3 linked regions of the Homo sapiens genome follow. The protein of the gene in region 2 purifies or fractionates together with the protein of the main gene of each other region. This does not show direct contact. Each region holds a gene or a part of one and is shown on either strand. Other genes may lie near its edges.

The links. Proteins that work in one complex are often made in the same cells at the same time.
Region 1: the proteins of RPH3A (region 2) and RAB27A purify together in Homo sapiens (affinity purification with mass spectrometry; 2 studies listed by BioGRID and IntAct, with this or other methods). This does not show direct contact.
Region 3: the proteins of RPH3A (region 2) and RAB8B purify together in Homo sapiens (affinity purification with mass spectrometry; 2 studies listed by BioGRID and IntAct, with this or other methods). This does not show direct contact.

Annotation. Positions count from the first base shown.
Region 1 is NC_000015.10:55,202,805-55,209,844, reverse strand, and holds the end of RAB27A (ras-related protein Rab-27A), read left to right. Parts: intron 1-4,139; coding exon 4,140-4,338; 3' UTR 4,339-6,879; downstream 6,880-7,040. UniProt on the Homo sapiens protein: Small GTPase which cycles between active GTP-bound and inactive GDP-bound states. In its active state, binds to a variety of effector proteins to regulate homeostasis of late endocytic pathway, including endosomal positioning, maturation and secretion.
Region 2 is NC_000012.12:112,892,709-112,899,382, reverse strand, and holds the end of RPH3A (rabphilin-3A), read right to left. Parts: intron 4,806-6,674; coding exon 4,724-4,805; intron 3,607-4,723; coding exon 3,510-3,606; intron 2,734-3,509; coding exon 2,603-2,733; 3' UTR 502-2,602; downstream 1-501. UniProt on the Homo sapiens protein: Plays an essential role in docking and fusion steps of regulated exocytosis.
Region 3 is NC_000015.10:63,255,575-63,262,614, forward strand, and holds part of RAB8B (ras-related protein Rab-8B), read left to right. Parts: coding exon 1-10; intron 11-930; coding exon 931-1,020; intron 1,021-4,052; coding exon 4,053-4,118; intron 4,119-7,040. UniProt on the Homo sapiens protein: The small GTPases Rab are key regulators of intracellular membrane trafficking, from the formation of transport vesicles to their fusion with membranes.

The DNA of each region.
Region 1 (7,040 bases), on a different chromosome or scaffold from region 2:
TGTACACACATATATGTATATATACACACATGTGTGTATATATGTATACATACACACATATGTGTGTATATATGTATATGTACACACATACACATATATATGTGTATATATATGTGTATATATATTAGTGGAAGTTTTCTTAAAAGTTTTATGTAAGTTTTCTTAGGAGAGAGATATATATATATCCCAAAAGATATATAGAGATGTATATCAGATATATCAAAAGGGTATTTGCTCTCTGTACTCCCATGTTTATTGCAGCACTATCCACAAGAGCTAAGATATGCAATCAATCTACCCATCAATGGATGAATGGATAAATAAAATATGGTTTATATATACAATGGAATGTTATTCCACCATAAAAAGAATGAAATCCCATCATTTGCAGCAGCTTGGATGGAACTGGAGATCATTATGTTATGTGAAATAGCCAAACACAGAAAGACAAATGTTGCATGTTCTTACTCATATGTGGGAGCTACAAAGGTGGATCTCATGAAGATAGAGAGTAGATTGGAGAATACCAGAGGCCAGGAAGGGTAGGAGGGAGTGGAGGATGAAGAGAGATTGATTAATAGGTACAAACATATGGTTTGATAGAAGAAATAAGATGTAGTGTTAGAAGGATCAGTAGGGTGACTATAGTTTACAACAATCTATTGTATATCTTGAAATAGCTAGGAGGGAAAAATTCCAATCGTTCTAGTATAAAGAAAAGACAAATATTTAAGATTATGGCAATCCCAAGTATACTTATCTTTACACATTATATCAGTGTATTAAATGATCATATTTACTCTGAAACTATATTATGCATAAATAAAAAATAAAATTTTCTTACAGATACAATTGAAGTCCCTTTTAAAATTCCTTGCTGATTCCATTCTCCTTCCTACCTCCTCAGAGGGAACCACACTATATCTACTTCCTATAGCAGATGTTGTTGGTTGCCTAGACAATATTCATGCCTTTATTTATAGAATCTCAATTTTCTTTAGCTATCTACTCTGCTTCTAGAGGACATGCTACTTAAGAGAGGCAGGTGCCAGCCACCAGCCCAGGAAGACTGATTGGTTTAAGCCAGTGATGGTGGTGTACCATTCCTCTTGCCAGAGTTTGGTTTAGGCATTGGCATGTGATACAGTTTTGACCAATGAGACACGAGGGAAAGTCTTCCAGGGACTTGTGGGAAAGATTTCCTCTCTCCTGAGGGAGGCACACAGAGGAAGAGTCCTTTCTTCCTTGGAACTTCGGTGTGTTGAGATGTGATGCCTGGAATGTTTTAACTTCTGGGGTCATGAAGGGAGTCAGATTGTGGAGAAAGCTGACATGTGGAGGATGGCAGAACAGAAGGATGATATGAATCTAGGCTCTTTGTTTCTACCGTTTGGCAACCGAATTAACACTGGAAACTCTCTAGTTCTGTGTTCATTATGCATTACAATAAATTCCTACTTGTGATTCATGCCAATTTGAGCCACAATTTTCGGTTACTTTTAGCTAAAAGCAGTCAAAATTATATATTTCTAGTCCAAGAAGTTGTACTTTTACTACATAGATGTTTTTATAATGATGTGTAATTGTTGTCTTCACACAAATGATCTTGTATCATACAAGTTGGTTTTTTAATTCAATGTTTAATTTTTGCCATGTTGATACAGTTTAAGCATTGTATAATTCATTGTATAAAAATATCACTATTCATGCGCTTATTGATGGACGTTTAGGTAAATTTTTTCCCTATTACAAATAGTTCTGCAATATCTATTCCATTAGACGATGCCACGTGCACATATGTGAGAGCTTCTCTAGGGCTGCACTATCCAGTGTGATAGCCACTGGTCACATGTAGCTATTTAAGTTAAAATTAAAAGTTCAGGTTTTTTGGCCAGGTGTGGTGGCTCATGCCTGTTATCCCAGCACTTTGGGAGTGGAGGCAGACAGATCACTTGAGGTCAGGAGTTTGAGACCAGCCTGGCCAACATGATAAAATTAGCTGGGAGTGGTGGCCTGTTCCTGTAGTCCCAGCTACTTGGGAGGCTGAGGGACGAGAATCGCTTGAACTTGGGAGGCAGAGGTTGCAATGAGCCAATATCACACCATTACACTCCAGCCTGGGCAACAAAGTGAGACTCCATCTCTAAAAAACAAAACAAAACAAAAACAAAAACAAAAAAGTCGCATTTTTGGTTGCATTAGCCACATTTTAAGTGCTCAATAGCTACATGTGGCTAGTAGTTATTGTACTGGATGATATACATATGGAAAGTTCCTGTCACTGTGGGAAGTTCTATTGGATAGTGCTGCTCCAGCACAGGGTTTCTGAATATTTTTCATAGGATGGCACCTGCAGAAAATGATAATATTTGTACAGCTCACTGGGATAAATAGATAAGGCTGCTCAAGTTTGGAGGAGACTGGTTCAGGGACTCTGGCTGCCCTAAGACCTTCTCAGTTGCCCTAAGGACTGAGGGATTGCTGATGTCTCATGTATCCCTGTAACTCACTTCCTGCCCATCAACATGCCTTGGCTCTGCTTTAGATGTATACCCAGGAGTGCTGTTGCTGGGTCATAGTGCATGCATGTTTCAATTTTATCAGATATTACCGTCTTATTTTCCAAAGTAGTTATTAACAGTTTATACTTACATAAGCAGTAAGTGCAAGTTCCTCTTTTCTTCTCCTTGGCAATACTTAATATTGGGAGATTTCTATATTTTTGCCAATCTGATGGGTGTGAGTTAATATACCATTATTTTAACTTGCATTTCCCTTATTTTGGGTGAGGTTGAACATTTTTTCACAAATGTAATTTCTTAGAATTTCCCGTGCATATCCTTAGTCTGTTTTGTATTATCTTGTTTATTACTTTAATTCATTTGAGGAATTATTTTTTCGGATGCTAACCCGTTTGCAAGTTATATGAAATGCCATGTATTTCGGCCTGTCGCTCATCTTTTAACTTTGCTTATGATATATGTTGTGGCACCAAAGTTTTAAACTTTAACATTGTCAAGATTATCAAACTTATTCTCTGTGGTTTGAGCTTTTATAGCTATATTAAGAAATCCTTTCTTATTCCAATGTCAAAAAGATAAGACTGTTGTATGTTCTTCTAAAAGTTTTCAAGTTTTACTTTTCACTTAGAGGAATTTAAACGGCTTTCATACCAATAATCAAGTTTTAAATTCTTAAAACTAGGCTGGGTGCAGCAGCTCACACCTGTAGTCCCAGCACTTTGGAGGCCAAGGCGGGTGGGTAGCTTGAGCTCAGGAGTTCGAAACCAGCCTGGGCAACATGGTAAAACCCTGTCTCTACAAAAAAATACAATAATTAGCCAGGTGTGGTGGTGTGCGCCTGTGGTCCCAGCTACTTGGAAAGCTGAGGTAGGAGGATCGATGCCTGGGAAGTCGCCTGGGAACTGAGATCGTGCCACTGCACTCCAGCCTGGGTGATAGAGACTCTGTCTCAAAACAAAAAACCCTCCAAAAACTTAAACGAAAAAAGATTTAATTCTGTCTCTGTCTTCCAGAATCCCCTACTTATATCTTTTTATAAATTTTTTACAGTAAATCAGTATGTATTGCCAAAATATATATATGGTCCTTTAAAAAATGAAAATTGATTTTTTTTGAGACAGTCTAACTCTATTGCCCAGGCTGGAGTGCGGTGGCACAATATTGGCTCACTGCAACCTCTGCCTCCCAGGTTCAAGTGATTCTTGAGCCTCAGCCTCCCCAGTAGCTGGGATTACAGGTGTATGCCACCATTCCTGGCTAATTTTTGTATTTTTTGTAGAGATGGGGTTTCCGCATGTTGGCCAGGCTGGTCTTAAACTCCTGACCTCAGGTGATCTGCCCACCTGAGCCTCCCAGAGTGCTGGGAGGTGTGAGCCACTGCGCCCAGCCAAAAATTGATATTTTGAAGAGTCTAAAATTTCCAGTTTTGCATATCTACTGGAAATGCAGTGTGAGTATTTTATTGTCTTTTTAACTTTTTAATGTACTCTGGGGTGGTAAAATGTTTGTCATCTTGTATATTTGTATTCTATCGATTCTCTAATTTGAATTATCAAGAGCAAAGGTCACTCTCCTTTCCCTCCACATGTTGTTACCTCAGTTGTCTCTGTCTTCCAGAATCCCCTACTTTGAAACTAGTGCTGCCAATGGGACAAACATAAGCCAAGCAATTGAGATGCTTCTGGACCTGATAATGAAGCGAATGGAACGGTGTGTGGACAAGTCCTGGATTCCTGAAGGAGTGGTGCGATCAAATGGTCATGCCTCTACGGATCAGTTAAGTGAAGAAAAGGAGAAAGGGGCATGTGGCTGTTGAGAAGTCAAGTAAGCGACATAGTAGTTCAGGTGGCCCATGCCTGGGATCTTCTCTATGATTGATACATGGCACAGTGAGAGATTAATGGGCATTGTGTACAAATTGCTTCTCACCATCCCCATTAGACCTACGAATAAAGCATCCGGTTCTAAAATTAATTTGTTGCAGCTTTGTAAATATTTCTTTAAGATTCAGCCTGAGAGTTAGGAGAAATATTTCAGAGCCAAAAGTGCCTTATACAACCTTAGCCTATTATAGTAAATCATTCAAGGATTCAGAATTTTGCAGTCACAGAAGAGTGTATTTATTATGTAGAATGAATGAGGGTACTGTCACCTGCCTTAATGTAGGTAGGCCCAGAGTCTTACATTTAAGATCTTACATGCAGTTATAAAACCGCCACAGTCTTCAATCCAGATTTGAAGACTCATGCCATAGGTGACATTCTAAAATACCATTAAAGCCACTTAAATGTTAAATAAGAATATACATGCACATCAGCTCAATGTCTTTGAGTATTAATTTTATGTAAGCATTCTATTTAACATGAATATAGGACAAATCATGGCTATATCTATAGACCTTGGATAAACTGGATTGACCAATTATACACTCACGGTGACTTTTTTATTGGTGGGAAGGGGATTGGGGTGGGGCAGGCTGGCTTAATGTAATATGAGCAACCAAAGTGGGACTTCTGTCTCCCCGCTATATTCCCATTGCTCTGAATGGTTGATTGAAGGGTCAGGGAACTAGATTTTATGGCTTTAGTTCACTGTGATTGTACATTTATACTTGGCCTATGTGCTGGCCGCACCTGAACATAGCTGGTGCTTATGCCGAGTTATTTGCGATGAGTAAATATTTAGTTTCTTTTTCTTCATATTTATAATGTTGATCTGGCATCCTCAGGCTGCAGCTTTATTAGCTTATAACTTACTCATCTCTATCTTTACCAGCAGGCTCTGTATTGTTGATATTTGCAACTTGTTTTGCTTTTCCATTGGTGGAATTGAAATAATTAGTTTTTAATTACATAAGATGCCTGTTTGCTATTTGGTGGAAGATAGATGTTCATATTGAAGCAGTCACATTTGTACTGTAGTTCAATAAAAGAAAAATGAAGTATTCTGTAGCCTATATTTTTCATAGAGCTCATGAGCATTTACTGTACTTGCTGGGTCTTGCCAAGATCATTTATTCCGCTGCATTGCCAAAGTGTCTTCATACCAAATTAAAGGTGGTTTTAATATATGTTTCATGGAAGTTGTTTATAAAATTCAAAGGTATTTCATTTAGGTGAAAAGTCTTATTTATTAAAGTGGTTTGAATAAAGTAGATCAAAACTTCCAGAGATCTTAATGGCTATATAGGAAGAAATATCACTCACCATAATTTAAATAAAGAATAAAAATACTTGTATTTTGTGGTGGCAAATGTTTGGTAGAACTGTAATTAGAAAAATACAAGTATATTTGCGTGATGGTTACACTAGAAGCCCAGACTTTACGACTACACAATATATTCATGTATCTAAACTGTACTTGTACCCCCTAAATTTATTTTTAAAAAAGGAAAAATAAAAGTATCATGAAAAAACCTATTTTTTTTTCCACTGTCCTTCCACTACTCCCATAACAAACTTATCCATGGTTGGTAAAATTTTACATATTTCTATCCTTGAAATGAAGGCTTCTTTTAAATTCCAAAGAAGTCATGGAGGCCTGTGCATTTGAATTGTATATGCTAGTGAGGAAAAGATTTAGACATTTCAAGAGCAGGGTTGGCCAGGCGCGGTGGCTCACACCTGTAATCCCAGCACTTTGGGAGGCCGAGGAGGGCGGATCACGAGGTCAGGAGATCGAGACCATCCTGGCTAACACAGTGAAACCCCATCTCTACTAAAAAAAAAAAAAAAAAAAAAATGGGCTGGGCGTGGTGGTGGGCACCTGTAGTCCCAGCTACTCAGGAGGCTGAGGCAGGAGAATGGCGTGAACCTGGGAGGCGGAGCTTGCAGTGAGCCGAGATTGCGCCACTGCACTCCAGCCTGGGCGACAGAGGAGACTCTGTCTCAAAAAAAAAAAAAAAAAAAAAGAGCAGGGTCATAATCACACAGCAGTGCCTTATATAGTTGCCATAAGACTTCAGTGCAGTACAACATAATTTTACAGCTACATATCAGGGCATATTCTATATGGTGTATTTGTGTTAGAATAACACATTAAATGTCTTTAAACATAAAAATAAGAATGTTTGCATGTTTCAGTTTTCAAGAACCAAATGAGTAATTAGCTATAGATTCCACTGGCCTTAAACATACAATTAAGTGTATACATGATATAGTGCACACACAAAAGCCACCTTTAATTATTGAAATAACCTGTATTCTTTTTGGAAATCATTTAAGTTTGGTATTGAAGTACTATATTTTTTGTGCATCAATGTATTTTTCTATTTACAAGCCTATGTAAAAGTGAAGTGTATCTTCAGTGAACCATGTGCCAATTAAGCTGTAATAAAAAAGTGGTCTAGTCTGTCAAATTTGTGTGTGAACGTAACTGTATTTATTATCACAAAGTTTCATACCAGAGGTTGTAATGCCAAAGGAAATGAAATTCAGGGATACACGTTCCATTAGGTGCTCACTGAGGGGCCAGCCAAGACAACATATTCTGGAAAAGTAATTAAAAATGTTATCAGGT
Region 2 (6,674 bases):
CAGTGTGTGAAGAACACTGGATTCTGGGAGTCCAACGATCGAACTCCTTTCCTGGTATTGCCTTTGTTTAACACTGGACATGGCATTTTCTTCTCTGGACCTTGGTTTCTTCATCTGTCTAAAAAGTGAGTTGATTGAACTAGGTTGTGGCTCAATTGTATGTTCTCTTTTAGCTTTGGCAATTTCTGATTCTGCAACCACCTGGGACGTTTCCCAGGTCTTGTAGCAGCAGGAGGAGGATGAGGATGTTGCCCTCCTGTTTGGTAGGCACCAGCAAAAAGTATTCTTCTAGAAGGGTTTGGAGTCAGCCAAGTTACCTTAGGCCCACCTGCCCAAGATAAAATCCACCATAAAGCAAACTCCTCGTGGGCAGAGAACACATCTGTCGCCAGTGCCTGGAACATAGTAGATGCTCATTAAGTACTGACTATCAGAATAGCATATGTCCTGGTGGGGAGGAGGACTTCGCAGAAACCAGAAAGGAAAACTGCAGACCACTCGTTTTCTTGGATGCTCCTACTTTATTTTTGGCTACATCATCACAAAGAAAGATGCTGGGTGGTTGTGCATGCACCGGAGGACGTGTGTGTATTCTAGGCAGGGAGGTGGTTACATTTGTCGGGGACAGCGGGCACCCAGACTAGGGGCACTGTGAGCTTGCTGCATGCTGATTCCAGCGCCTACACCAGCATCAGGCTTGGGCGACACAGCCAGCATGCTGTCTCCTAAGGGGAAACTGTGGTGAGGGAGGTGGGCTGAGAGTAGGTGCCACCAGGGACTAATGGGGAAAGATAAGGTCAAAAGGAAAGATGGCAGCCAGGAAGCTGTTGGCCACCTTGGGGAAGGTGAAGAGCTCGATGTTTAGAAAATGGTTATTCAAGGCAAGAAATGAGTCCTCCCATGAATTGTGCAGGGAGCTGAGGGTGGAGGGCGTTGAAAAGTTAAGAGATGTGATTTGGGGAAAGTGAGAGTTTGAGTATCTGTCTGATGCTTCTGTAGAGAATGTCAGGGGTTTGGGATGACTGGGAGTGATTTTCATGAGGGAAGACTTCATCAAAATTGGGAAAATCGAACCTTTCTCACAGGGCATTGAAGATTGCCTGACTTCAACCTCAAATTTGTAATGTTTGCCCACATTGCCTTTTCCTCCTTTATAAAATAATTTTTTTTATAGGAAGAAAGTGAAAGATTGATGATGAGCCCAAAGCCTTTGGCATCAGGCCTGTCTCTCTCTACTGTTCCATAGCCATGATATTATTTGATTCTCCCAGGAAGCTTAGTAACGAGAGTGCAGGAGACAGAGAGACAGACAAAGAGAGACAGAGAGACTGGAGGGGGTTCTGAGTGAGAGATGGGATGCAAAAGAGTCAATGAAACAGAGTCAAGGGCATTGGGGAGGAGGGTAGCTTGTTCATTTACCTAAGAGCGGAGAAAGGAGAAAGGCTGGAGGCTTTGGCTGAGGCTTCCTCAGACCCATGGCCCTGGTCTTCTAAATGCCTCCGTGCCCACCCGGGGAGCCCACGGATGAGAGAGTCCTCTATGGGGCATCTACACAGCTTGAGGGATGCTGCCATGCACTCAGGGCAGTGCCAGCCATTGGCCCAAGCCCTGGGAATGTCTGGTTCTGCCAACGGGAGGAGTGGGTCAGTTAAGAAGCGTGGGCCCAAGTGGAATCTCAGGTTTGGGCCAGTTTCTCAGTTTCCTGGTCAGGCTGGTGAGAGCAAGGGGGTGAGGCTAGGTTAACATACACTTTTTTTGCTGTTGTTTTTGCGGTGTTACTGCTTTAGAGAGAGAGAAAGGCAAAGGGAAGAAAGGCAGGGAGAGAAAGGAGAGGGGAGAGGCTGAGAAAGAGAGAATCTACTATCATGGAAGGGAAAGAAGAGGGAGGAGGAGAAAAGGTGACAGAGGAAGGGTTTTTTGTTGTTGTCGTTTGTTTTTGTTTTGCTAGGAAGCACACAGGTGACATTCGGAAAGAGGAGAGCGTCCAAGCCCCTGGTGAATTCTGTGCATTTGCATCCTGGTGCACTTGGAGCAGGGAGGGTGTGTTACTGAACACAGCAGTCTGTTTTCCTGGCAATCAGGGTGTACATCTCAGGGGGCAGTGGGAGCCCGGAGGCTCTATTTGTGCCCCAATGCTTCTCTCACAGCATTGTCCGGGTCTGCTGACAACTGGGGATATACAGAGACACAACACAGGGAATGAAAGGGTGTGTGTGTGTGTGTGTGTGTGTGTGTGTACATGTGTGTGTTCAAGGCTAGGAGGGTCTAAAAACAGTCCTAAATGATGAAGAACCTTTGTAATTTACCCAAACTGAGAGGTTATTAAATGATCAACCTCTTTGTAAACGTCTCCCCAACCCCATCCCCATTGCTCCATCCCAGGGATGAGAGAGGGGCTGTATTCAGAGCCCACATCCCAGCATCAGGGAGGAGGGAGTCTTTGGCAGCAGTGCCCAACGTGACGGGGGCTCAAAGGCAGGCTCAGGGAGATCAGCAGGGTATGGGGGGAGGTAGGCATAGAGAAGAGAGATCAGGGTGCGGTGGGCAGCTAGAGCAGGCTGGGGGGGACCCGGGACATGGAGATGGGGACCTGGGCACTAGCCTAATCACTTGACACGTGGTTCTCATTCTGTAGCTGGTGCCAGCGCTCTATCTTCTTGTCTTTATTTTTCAGACACTCGTACCAGTGTTTTAAGCGCTCTCCCTTGGCAGAGATCCCCAGCTGGCAGCCTCCTGGAGGATAAATGGGAAGATAGGAGCAGGTGGTCAGAATAGAGGTCGTTCTAGACCCAAATGTGTAGTTGGGGAAAAAACTGCACCAAGCAGTGACCCCCAGCAACCTGGGATCCATACTCTATAGAGAGTTGTTATAACGTTGCTGCTGTTGTTGTTATTATTATTACGGTCCTTCTCTGCCTCAAGAACCTGCAATGGCTCCCTACTGTTCCACTGAGTCATAATTTCACTGTCTATTTTTAAAGGCTTTCTACAAATCACCATTCTACTCACTGAAACTTATCTCCCACTACTTCTGGGAACTCATTGTCTATTTCCAAAAAGGTTCATCATCCTGCTCAATCCTGTCTTTACCCCTTAGCTCAGGCTCTGTCCCTTGCCTGGAGTCCCCACCCCCCTGCTTCATCTTTAATTGATTTTCTTCCTCATGATTCAAACAGGAACTAAAAAATTAAAAATTTTATCCTGGACATGCAAATAAATTAAGAATTCTTTTGCACCCTGCTTTCTGCAGAGAACGCAAATCTCTCCTGTGATTTAATTACCCCACTGGAGGTGATTTGTTCAACAAATAATCAAGTTTTGTAAGGCTTTTCATGTAAAGACATCCCCAAATTGGACCAAGGTCAAGATCATGGGTCTCAATTTAGCATTTGAACAATGAGGTTGCCAAAAGAATAGCAATGACCTCAACTCTCTGTAGCCCTGGATAAGGCTCTCCTGTTCTGGGGAGGACAGAAGAGGGCGTTTTCTCTGGAGTTAGGAACACTCACCGATGTAATCATTGGACTTGCCGATGTCATAGTCCCAGACTGAAATGTCCAGTGACTTCTTTGCCAGGTCACTGTGTTTGATGTCATAGAAAAACTCCTGAATACAACAGAGGAAGACATGTGGGTAAGAGCCCTCTGAACCCACAGCATTGGGAGGTAAGAGGCCGAGTCCTAGGGGTTATGGGCCAAGGAGAGGTCCTTGAGCTGGCATTCTGGGAGCAAGGAGGTCTTCCCGTGCCGATCCTCTGCCCCAGGTCCCGTGATCCCCTTCCAACAAACACTCTGTGTAACAAAGCACTGTCATCCTCTTTTCAGTGAATTCTCTGCTTGAAATTGGGAAGGCTGGTGAGGTTTTTCTAATAGAGCTCAAGTTTCCTTGTAGGTAAATGGCCATGAACATAGTCCTTCCCCTCTGGTAGTTTATGAAGGGGCATCCCCTTTTTTATTGCTTAGGAATAAAAGTAGTTGAAGTGGCCGGGCCCGGTGGCTCACACCTGTAATTCCAGCACTTTGGGAGGCTGAGATGGTGGCTCATTTGAGCTCAGGAGTTCGAGACCAGCCTGACCAACATGGTGAAACCCCATCTCTACTAAAAATACAAAAATTAGCCAGGCATGGTGGTGGGCACCTGTAATTGCAGCTATTCGGGAAGCTGAGGCAGGAGAATTGCTTGAACCAGGGAGGTGGAGGTTGCAGTGAGCCAAGATCACGCCACTGCACTCCAGCCTAGGCCACAGAGTGAGACTCTGTCTCAAAAATAAATAAATAAATAAATACAGTTGAAGTGGACTGAGTACATATGTTCCCAGACAATCTGATTTTTAAAAAATAGCTTCTCTGCCTAATTACAAAATTCATTTTATGTTCATTGCTAAAACAAAGAAGAACCCCCACCCCCAATTCCCGGTAATCCAACTACCCAAGAATAACCATGTCAACATTCCCCCACATGTGTTCACAGTGATGTATAAATTTTTTGTTAACTAAGTAATGCTGAACATACAGTATTGTCACTTCCTTTTTCATTTACAACTTTGGGCAAAAACCAACTTAGCATGTTCTCAAATATTTTTCAAATATTTTTCTACATCATCATTTCAAATGGCTGCATTTAATGGCTATGTGGCCACATATTTAATGGCTATGTGGCTATTTGTGCCTCTCTAACACACAGCAAATATCCCAGAGCATGAAAAAGAATAGGGCAGCCTTACCTCATTGAATTCGGGATTCAAGGTTTTCTTTTTAATTTGAGTCTTGTGTTTGGCCTTCTTTCCCATGTCCGGTTTCAGCCAGCTGGGAGGCGACACAACATGCTATTATGGATGACGTTTAATGAATAAGAACAGCCTCTTGACCCCAAAGGCCCCTTCTTTATCAGGGTGAATTGATGAATAAATCAGAAAGGGATCAACATTGATAATGACCAATATGCATTAGAGCATCTGCTTGGTACCAGGCACTTGACTGAGCAACTTAGGCATATTTAATCCCCACATGACCCTAGGCAGTAGAACCACAACCACTCAGTTTACAGAAACAGAAACTGAGATCCAGAGAGGCAGAAGTGTGCCCTAGCTCACACAGCTGGGATTGAATCCAGATGTTGCATCTAGAGTCTGTGTTCTTAGCATGCTCACTTTCTCCCCATAAGTCAAATTGATGGCCATGGCTGGTGGTGCCTGGCATTTTACCATCTATCCCACCTTAGGCTGCCCCCAATCCCTAGAGAGAGGCTGGGTGTATGCACAGAAAGGGGAAGATGCAAATCTGATTATTGTCACTCCACTTCTCAAAACTGTGTACTGGGTTCCTTTTAAACTCAGGGGAGAGTTCAAAATCCTTCATGTGGCCTTAAGACCGTGTGTGTTGGGTTTCTGCTCCATCCCAACCTAACCTTATGCCATCCTCCTCACCCCACTCCTTACTTCTCCTTTCCACCCAAGGGCCTTTGAGCAAACTGTTTCTTCTGCCTACAGGGCTCTTTTCCAGTGAGGCCCAGTGTCTGGCACATAGTAGGTACTCAATCAATATTTTCTGGGTGAGGCTGCGTATGGTGGCTCGTGCCTGTAATCTCTGCACTTTAGGAGGCCAAAGCGGGAGGATCACTTGAGCCCAGGAGTTCCAGACCGGCCTGGGCAACATAGCGAGAGCCTGTCTCTATAAAAAATAACAAAAATTATCTGGGCACAGTGATGTATGCCTTCAGTCCCAGGTACTCAGGAAGCTGAGGTGGAAGGATCTCTTGAGCCCCAGAGTTCGAGGCTGCAGTGAGCTATGATCACACCACTGCACTACAGCCTGGGCAATAGAGCGAGACCCTGTCTCTTAAAAAAGAGAGAGAGAACAAAACACAAACCAAACAAAACAAAATATTTCCTGGGTGAGTAAACACAATGGGCTAAACACTCCTAAGGGCTGGGACATTTGGATTCTGATTCAGGTTGTCACCAGCGGAGCAACTTTAAACATGAGCGTAACTTTACCGTGCCTCTGTTTCTTGACCTGTAAAGAGGGCGAACATTTCATTCTCATCTACAGAAGTGGTTTTGAGGATAATTTTTAAGAAGAGACAAAAATGAGGAATTAGAAGTTACCAAAGAGCTAAGCAAAAATAATGGGAAGTTCTGGCTTTTAAAAAATCTTTATTTGATCAGAAACTGCTTAGTGGTCTCCCATTTTTTCTCCCATAACTGCACCCAGCAGGTCAGCTGCTTCAGTAGTGACCACGGCAATTCTACTTCTTCTGGAAGGATTGGGTAGGTGGGGGAGGGGGTGGTAGAGAGAATTATTTAAGAAAACCAATCTGCACATGGCTGACCTCTAATGGAGTGCTGGACAGCACCCCTTGAGCTCATTTCCTCTCTTGGGTCATACGAGGAAATAAAATCAAATTACTCTTAGAAACCAAACTTGTCCCTGACCTGTGTGTTCTTTGTTAACTAAATCTTCATTCAAAGGAAATGTGAAAGACAGCCCACATGGATCTGTTCTTTGGCCATGGACTAAAGGGAAGTATTGCTTTCTGTTATCAGAGGCAGTGGAGGTGGGGGGAGTGTCTCCCAACTGGAGGGGATATTAGTAAATACTCTCTGCCATGAGTAAGGACAGTGATGGTGGTTATTTATAACCATAATGGCAGGTATTTATTAGCATTTACTGTGT
Region 3 (7,040 bases), on a different chromosome or scaffold from region 2:
CATTGAAGAGGTATGTGTGGAAAGAGAATGGTGACATTGGAGAAGAGTCCTGCTGGGTGCTTGTAAAAGGCTCCTCTGTCTGCAAGGCAGCTGAGCTGCTTAGAAGCAGGGCATGGGCAGGTTGGGCCCTCTCTCTCTGAAGAGCTCCATAAATCTCTGGTGCTGCCAGTCTGACTACTGGGGGTTAGGGGGACAGAGAAGTAACGTCACAAGATTTTAAGCTTGGGCCAGATATGGGAAATAATTTAATCCTAGATCACATTTTACACATGAATAACTGAGAACAGAAAGAAGTGATTTGCCTGTGCTCATACAGCCTTTAAAAAGAAGAGCCAGGATTAAAACATCTGGTTCCCAGCTTCTATCCCACCATGCTGTTTGGCTAGCAACAATTATCTCTTTACCTTGGCAACTTTTTGCCCTTCTGACATTTTCTCCATCTTAGATATTTGAAGATTGTTTTAATTCCAGGATAATTGGTATTAAGATTTTTTTAATGTCTTTGTCACTTAAGAAAGAAATCTGACTCTGAAATAATTTTGTACACGTTTCTATAAACTTAGATGAATTTCTTTTTAAAATAGTACAGAATCTAGAATACCATCTCCACTGGTTCACTCAGTACCAAGTTTTTGTCCTTCTTTGACCTGAATATTTGGAAATTTTGTCATTAGATCACCATAAGCTTTATTTGTGTTTGTTCCACCTTCTTTCCAAACCTCGGGAAGAAGGTTTGCACAGGCTCTGTGAGGGCTCTTGTACTGTAGCTTTGCCCCTCTTCCCATCTTTAAACTTTTCTCTGAATTAGGCCTTGTGTGAGTAAAAGATTATGTCTTATTAAATTCATGTGTTTCTGACAGGTTGGATTTGTCTATTAAGTAACGGGTTTTTCTCAGGCTGTTTTTATAGCATGCTATTTTCTCCCTGCAGCATGCCTCTTCCGATGTCGAAAGAATGATCCTGGGTAACAAATGTGATATGAATGACAAAAGACAAGTGTCAAAAGAAAGAGGGGAGAAGGTAAATGTGAATGGAATGGATAAAGGTTGGAATCTACTCACATTAAGCATTTCTTTTCTTCATATTATTTAATTATTGATTTTTTTTAAAATCTGTGTTTTAATCCCTTTAAATTGGATATCAACAACAAAGAGATGTAATCCATACTTGAATGGTGTGAATTAGTATTCGAGATCCAGCTCTCTATACTGTGTGGTCATGACTCATTCCTAAAGAATTTGCTAATGTTTTCTGGGAGATACAAATTGGTCCTTTCTCAGATTCCTGCAGCTTAGAGTTCAGGCTGTTTCTTCCAGATCTGTGTGAAAATGCCCAGTTTTGAAGTTAAAGTAAACATTCTTTTTGAAAAAGAAGTTATAGGGATAGGTGAAGTTTCAACAGGAATCATTTTCCAATTCATTTTTTTCCCTAAGAATATTTTACTACACATTAGCGTTAGGTTTTATGGATAAATTCCTTGTAACTGATCAAGCTATGGATGTCATTTATATGTTGTTTATGGGCATGGGCATTTCTCTCTTTTGTGTCCTGTAAAGCAAAGGAATATTTTGTGTACATATTTACTTCTGTGACAGATTCTAAATTGACTTAGAAGCTTCACTTTTTAAGTCTTGGAATTTTGCTTTAGCCTTTAAAAAAATTATATATGCAAAATGCATTTTCTTTTCTTTTTTTTTTTTTTTGAGACAAAGTCTTGCTCTGTCTCCCAGGCTGGAGTGCAGTGGCGTAATCTCAGTTCACTGCAACCTCTGCCTCCTGGCTTCAAGCAATTCTCATGCCTCAGCCTCCAAGAAGGTGGGATTATAGGCATGTGCCACCACACACATATACCCGGCTAATTTTTGTATTTTTAGTAGAGACGCGGTTTTGCCGTGCTGGCCAGGCTGCTCTTGAACTCCCGGCCTCAAGCAATCCACCTGCCTCGGCCTCCCAAAGTGCTGGGATTACAGGTGTGAGGCACCATGCCCAGCCACATTTTGTTTTTCAATCTGACTGTGAACTTTTGCTGCAAACTTTTTTCCCCTAAAAACATTTACTTAATTTTAGCATTGTAAATGAACTAGGAACTTTTTGAGGAATATATAAGAGTTCGCAATTTGTCTCAATCAATAGAAATCAAAGCATGAATACTTTAGTATTTAAGTTTTTGTTCAATTCTGGACTCATTTATTAAAATTAATTAAGGCCTGGCGCAGTGGCTCATACCTGTCATCCCAGCACTTTGGGAGGCCGAGGTGGGTGGATCACGAGGTCAGGAGTTCGAGACCAGCCTGACCAACATGGTGAAACACTGTCTCTACTAAAAATACAAAAATTAGCCGGGCATGGTGGCGTGCGTGCGTCTGTAGTCCCAGCTACTCAGGAGGCTGAGGCAGGAGAATCACTTGAACCCAGGAGGCGGAGGTTGCAGTGAGCTGAGATAGTGCCACTGTACTCCTCCAGCCTGGGCAACAGAGCAAGACTGTGTCTCAAAAAAAAAAAAAAAGTAATTAAAAGTAAGTATAGTTTTTTTTTTTTTTATTTGAGATGGAGTTTCACTCTTGTCACCCAGGCTGGAGTGCAATTGCACAATTTTGGCTCACTACAACCTCTGGCTCCCTGGTTCAAGCGATTCTCCTGTCTCAGCCTCCCAAGTAGCTGGGATTATAGACGTCTGCCACCACACCAGGCTAATTTTTGTATTTTTAGTACAGACGGGGTTTCACCATGCTGGCCAGGCTGGTCTCTTAACTCCTGACCTCAGGTGATCTGCCTGCCTCGACCTCCCAAAGTGCTGGGATTACAGGCGTGAGCCACCACACCCGGCCTAAAAGTCAATACAGTAACTGTTGGAGAATTAAACTTTGGGAGCAGATAAAAGGAGTGAATGAATCCCAAGATAATGGTAGTTTTACCAGTGGAGGGTCTTGACTACAAGTCAGCCAGATTCTTGGCATTTTGAGCAAAGAATTGGACAAAATGCACACACACAAACAATGAAAGAATGAAGCCAAAACCACAAATTTATCGAAATGAAAGTACACTCCACAGAGTGGGAGTGGGCTTGAGCAAGCAGCTTGAGCACTGGTTACAGAATTTTCTGGGGTTTAAATACCCTCTAGAAATTTCCCATGGGTTACTTGGTTTACACTCTGTAAATGAAGTAGTGGCCCATGACCAGTTTGATTGGTTGCAGAAGGTGACCAATCAAAGGATGAAATGAAGTTACAAAGTTATACCCTGCGCAGACGTCTGATTGGTTGTGGGAGGGGACCAATCAGAGGTACTTTCCATTTTTAATCTGTGAGTCAGAAAAGGGGAGGAGGTTGCAAAGGGAGTAACCCCTGTACTTTTGTTACTTGGGCATGGAAGGCTGGGGTTTTTCTTTTGATTTAGTTCTAGGAAGTCAATGTGAATTGGCCTTAGGTTCCCTGCCTCCAGACCCTATTCTGCTACCTTAGGAGGGTGGGTATTTATCCCATATTAGAGAACTAAAAGTACAAAAACAGAAAAAAAGAGAAGTACTTAAATTATTATTATTATTTTATTTATTTATTTATTTTGAGACAGAGTCTCGCTCTGTCACCTGGACTGGAGTGCAGTGGTGCGATCTCGGCTTACTCCAACCTCTGCCTCCTGGGTTCAAGCAATTCTCCTGCCTCAGCCTCCCGGGTAGCTGGGACTACAGGCGGGTGCCACCACGCCCGGCTAATTTTTTGTATTTTTAGTAGAGGCGGGGTTTCATCATGTTAGCAAGGAGGGTCTCGATCTCCTGACCTCGTGATCCGTCTGCCTCGGCCTCCCAAAGTGCGTGAGCCACCATGCCCGGCCTTAAATTATGTTTGAAATGGAAGTTGTGCCATCCTTCTTACGATGATTAAGTTAAATTATTAAATTCTGAATACAGTAGAAGAAAGCAAAGAAATTTGAGAACCACAGGAGTTCTGAAATAGATACCCTACCTTTGAGACTTTGAAAAACCTAAGAAATACAAATGCATTATGTGTTCAAGTATCTTTTGCTAAATTTAAATATTTCTGTTTACTTTTCAGCTAGCAATTGACTATGGGATTAAATTCTTGGAGACAAGCGCAAAATCCAGTGCAAATGTAGAAGAGGTAAGAAGGAAACGTTTGGTGACTGTTACGGAGCAGCACCAGTGCTTAGGGGCCTGTGTTCAAACAGCTCTCAGAGCTTTGGTATTTTCTGACCTAATGAATGCCTTTTGTTGACCCAACTCTACTTTGTACACTTTTGTGCTTCTGATTTTTTTTTTTTTGAGATGGAGTCTCACTCTGTCGCCAGGCTGGAATGCAGTGGCATGATCTCGGCTCACTGCAACCTCTGCCTCCCAGGTTCAAGCGATTCTCCTGCCTCAGCCTCCCGAGTAGCTGGTACTATAGGTGTGCATCACCACGCCCAGCTAATTTTTGTATTTTTAGTAGAAACGGGGTTTCACCATGTTGGCCAGGAGGGTCTCGATCTCTTGACCTCGTGATCCCCTCTCCTTGGCCTCCCAAAGTGCTGGAATTACAGGCGTGAGCCACCATACCCAGCTGCTTCTGATTTTTATGTAGACGCTGGTTGTTGAATTTCTAGCATCTAGCCTCCACCTGGATTATATTAGCTTGCTCAGTTAAGATTCACAGAATAGATTATGGAAGTTCAGTTTTGCCCTTTTTTTGGGCAGCTGGAAATCCTGGACTAGAAGACCAACCAGTATCCTGTGCTCATTCATGTCACCCTGTATGCCTGCAGCAGAAGAGTTAAATCACTTTTAAGGCTGTACTCTCTCAAGGGAGAATTAAGCTGTTAGTTTATTGGACACATTCCTTTAGCGTACACATTTGAGGTAGATTAAGCACAATAAATTGTAACAGTGGCATTTAGTGGAAATAGGAAAGTGTTTATCAGGGAGTAGCTTTAATAAATTTTCATTAAGTTAGCTGTTAAGGAAAACCAAACCATCTAAAGTCTTATGAGAATAGGTTTTCTTCAATACCTAACGTAGATGACTGGTTGATGGTTGCAGAAAACCACCATGGCACGTGTATACCTAGGTAACAAACCTGCATGTTCTATACATGTATCCCAGAACTTAAAGTGTAAAAAAAAAAAATAATAGGTTTTCTTCACCAAGGGAACTGTTATTTTTTTTAAAAAACATTTTTTCAACTGATCATAAAAATAATACGTGTAATTTACATGTGATATGTGTTAATACATGTAATTCTTTTAATAATACTGATAGTTTCATAAACATTTAATTTCCTAGGTTACTCATTGTTCATCATAACATGATGGTTAAAAATCGAGACCTACATGACTTTATTAGCCAGTGGACACTGATCAGAACTTTTTCTTTGTTTTAAATAACGTAACAGTTATTTGTTTAGGTTGGCCGATGGGTGTTAGGAAACAGGAAGCCTCTACTGATTTACTTACACAAGCTTAGATAAGCAGAAAAATGCTTCCCTCTGCTTGATACAAAAGGATTTCCCGCCATCAGAAATAATCCAAGTTAAAAATGGACAAAAGATCTGAATAGACATTTCTCAAAAGAAGACAAATAAATGGCCAACAGGTATATGAAAAAATTCCCGACATCAGTAGTGATCAGGGCAATGCATATCAAAAGTACAGTGAGCTATCATCTCACCCCAATTAAAATGGCTTTTATCAAAGAGATAGGCAATAACAAATGCTGGAAAGGATGTAGAGAAAGGGGAACCCTCATATACTGTGGGTAGGAATGTAAATTAGTACAGCCACTATGGAGAACAATAAAAAAACTAAAAATAGAACTACCATATGATCCAGCAGTCTCACTACTGAGTATTTACCCAAAAGAAAGGGAATCAGTGTATCCACCTAAGTGTCCATCAGTGGATGAATGGATAAAGAAAATGTGGTATGTATACACAATGGAATACTATTCAGCCATAAAAAAAGAGTGAAATCCCATAATTTGCAACAGTATGGATAGAACTCCCTGAACTGGGAGTTGCCTGAGCTGCTTATTCTAGCAAGGCATACAGATGGTAACAACTTTGCCAGAGCTTTAAATCAGTGTGGTTAGGCTCATAGGTGACAAGTTTGACAGTGAGACACTGACAATGAGTAATAATAGTAGTTGTCGTATTGTTTTTATTTGATTGGATTGGAAATAATCCTTTTCCTGAACAGTTTTTGGGGATCAGGAGTGTTGGGAACAAAGAGGTTGATTTAACAATAGGTTTAGCATGGTGACAAATGAAGAATCTTTAACAGTTCCTGGCTTCATAGAAAAAGTGATGATGGATTTAAAAAATATTTGGTTTGTATCAAGAGACATTATGGATAAATTATCACGAAGATTAATCAGATTTGCCCTGCTTCTATTCGAACTGACTTCCATGGTGGGGAATTTAGCCGAGAGCTCCAGGAACTGTTGGGATTTTGGAGTAAGACATGGAAGATTATACATATTCAGCTATAAGAGTGAGAGCAATTTGAAAGAAAAAGCCAGAAATAAAAAGTAGAGATTTTTGTGAAGACATTTTAGAGCTATAGGGTAATACATAATTATTTATTCACTCATTAAACCAGATAGTCAGCATTTCCTAGATCAGCACTGTGCCCTGCTCTAGGGAAGTGGGGTAGCTTAGACAGAGCTTCTGTCCTGTTCTTGGTGTACTGAAGAAGTTACTCGTGACTCAACAAGGGTGTTATTGTGATATTATATCACATGAAGAAAATATTTGATGAATGAATGATAGTTTGATAACATTGGAAAATGTTTATGATACAATCTCAAAAGAGTAAACACATGCATACTATGATTACAATTATTACTTTCTTAATGTAAAGCTTTAAAGTGGTATATTTATATTGAAATAATGAAAAATTCTGTATTTCTGTTTTAAAATAAGTCAGGCATGGTGGCTCACACCTGTAGTCCCAGCTACTTAGGAGACTGAGGTGGGAGGATTGCCTGAGCCCAGGAGTTCCAATTCAGCCAGGGCAACATAGCAAGACCCCATCTCTGAGGCGGGGGGAAT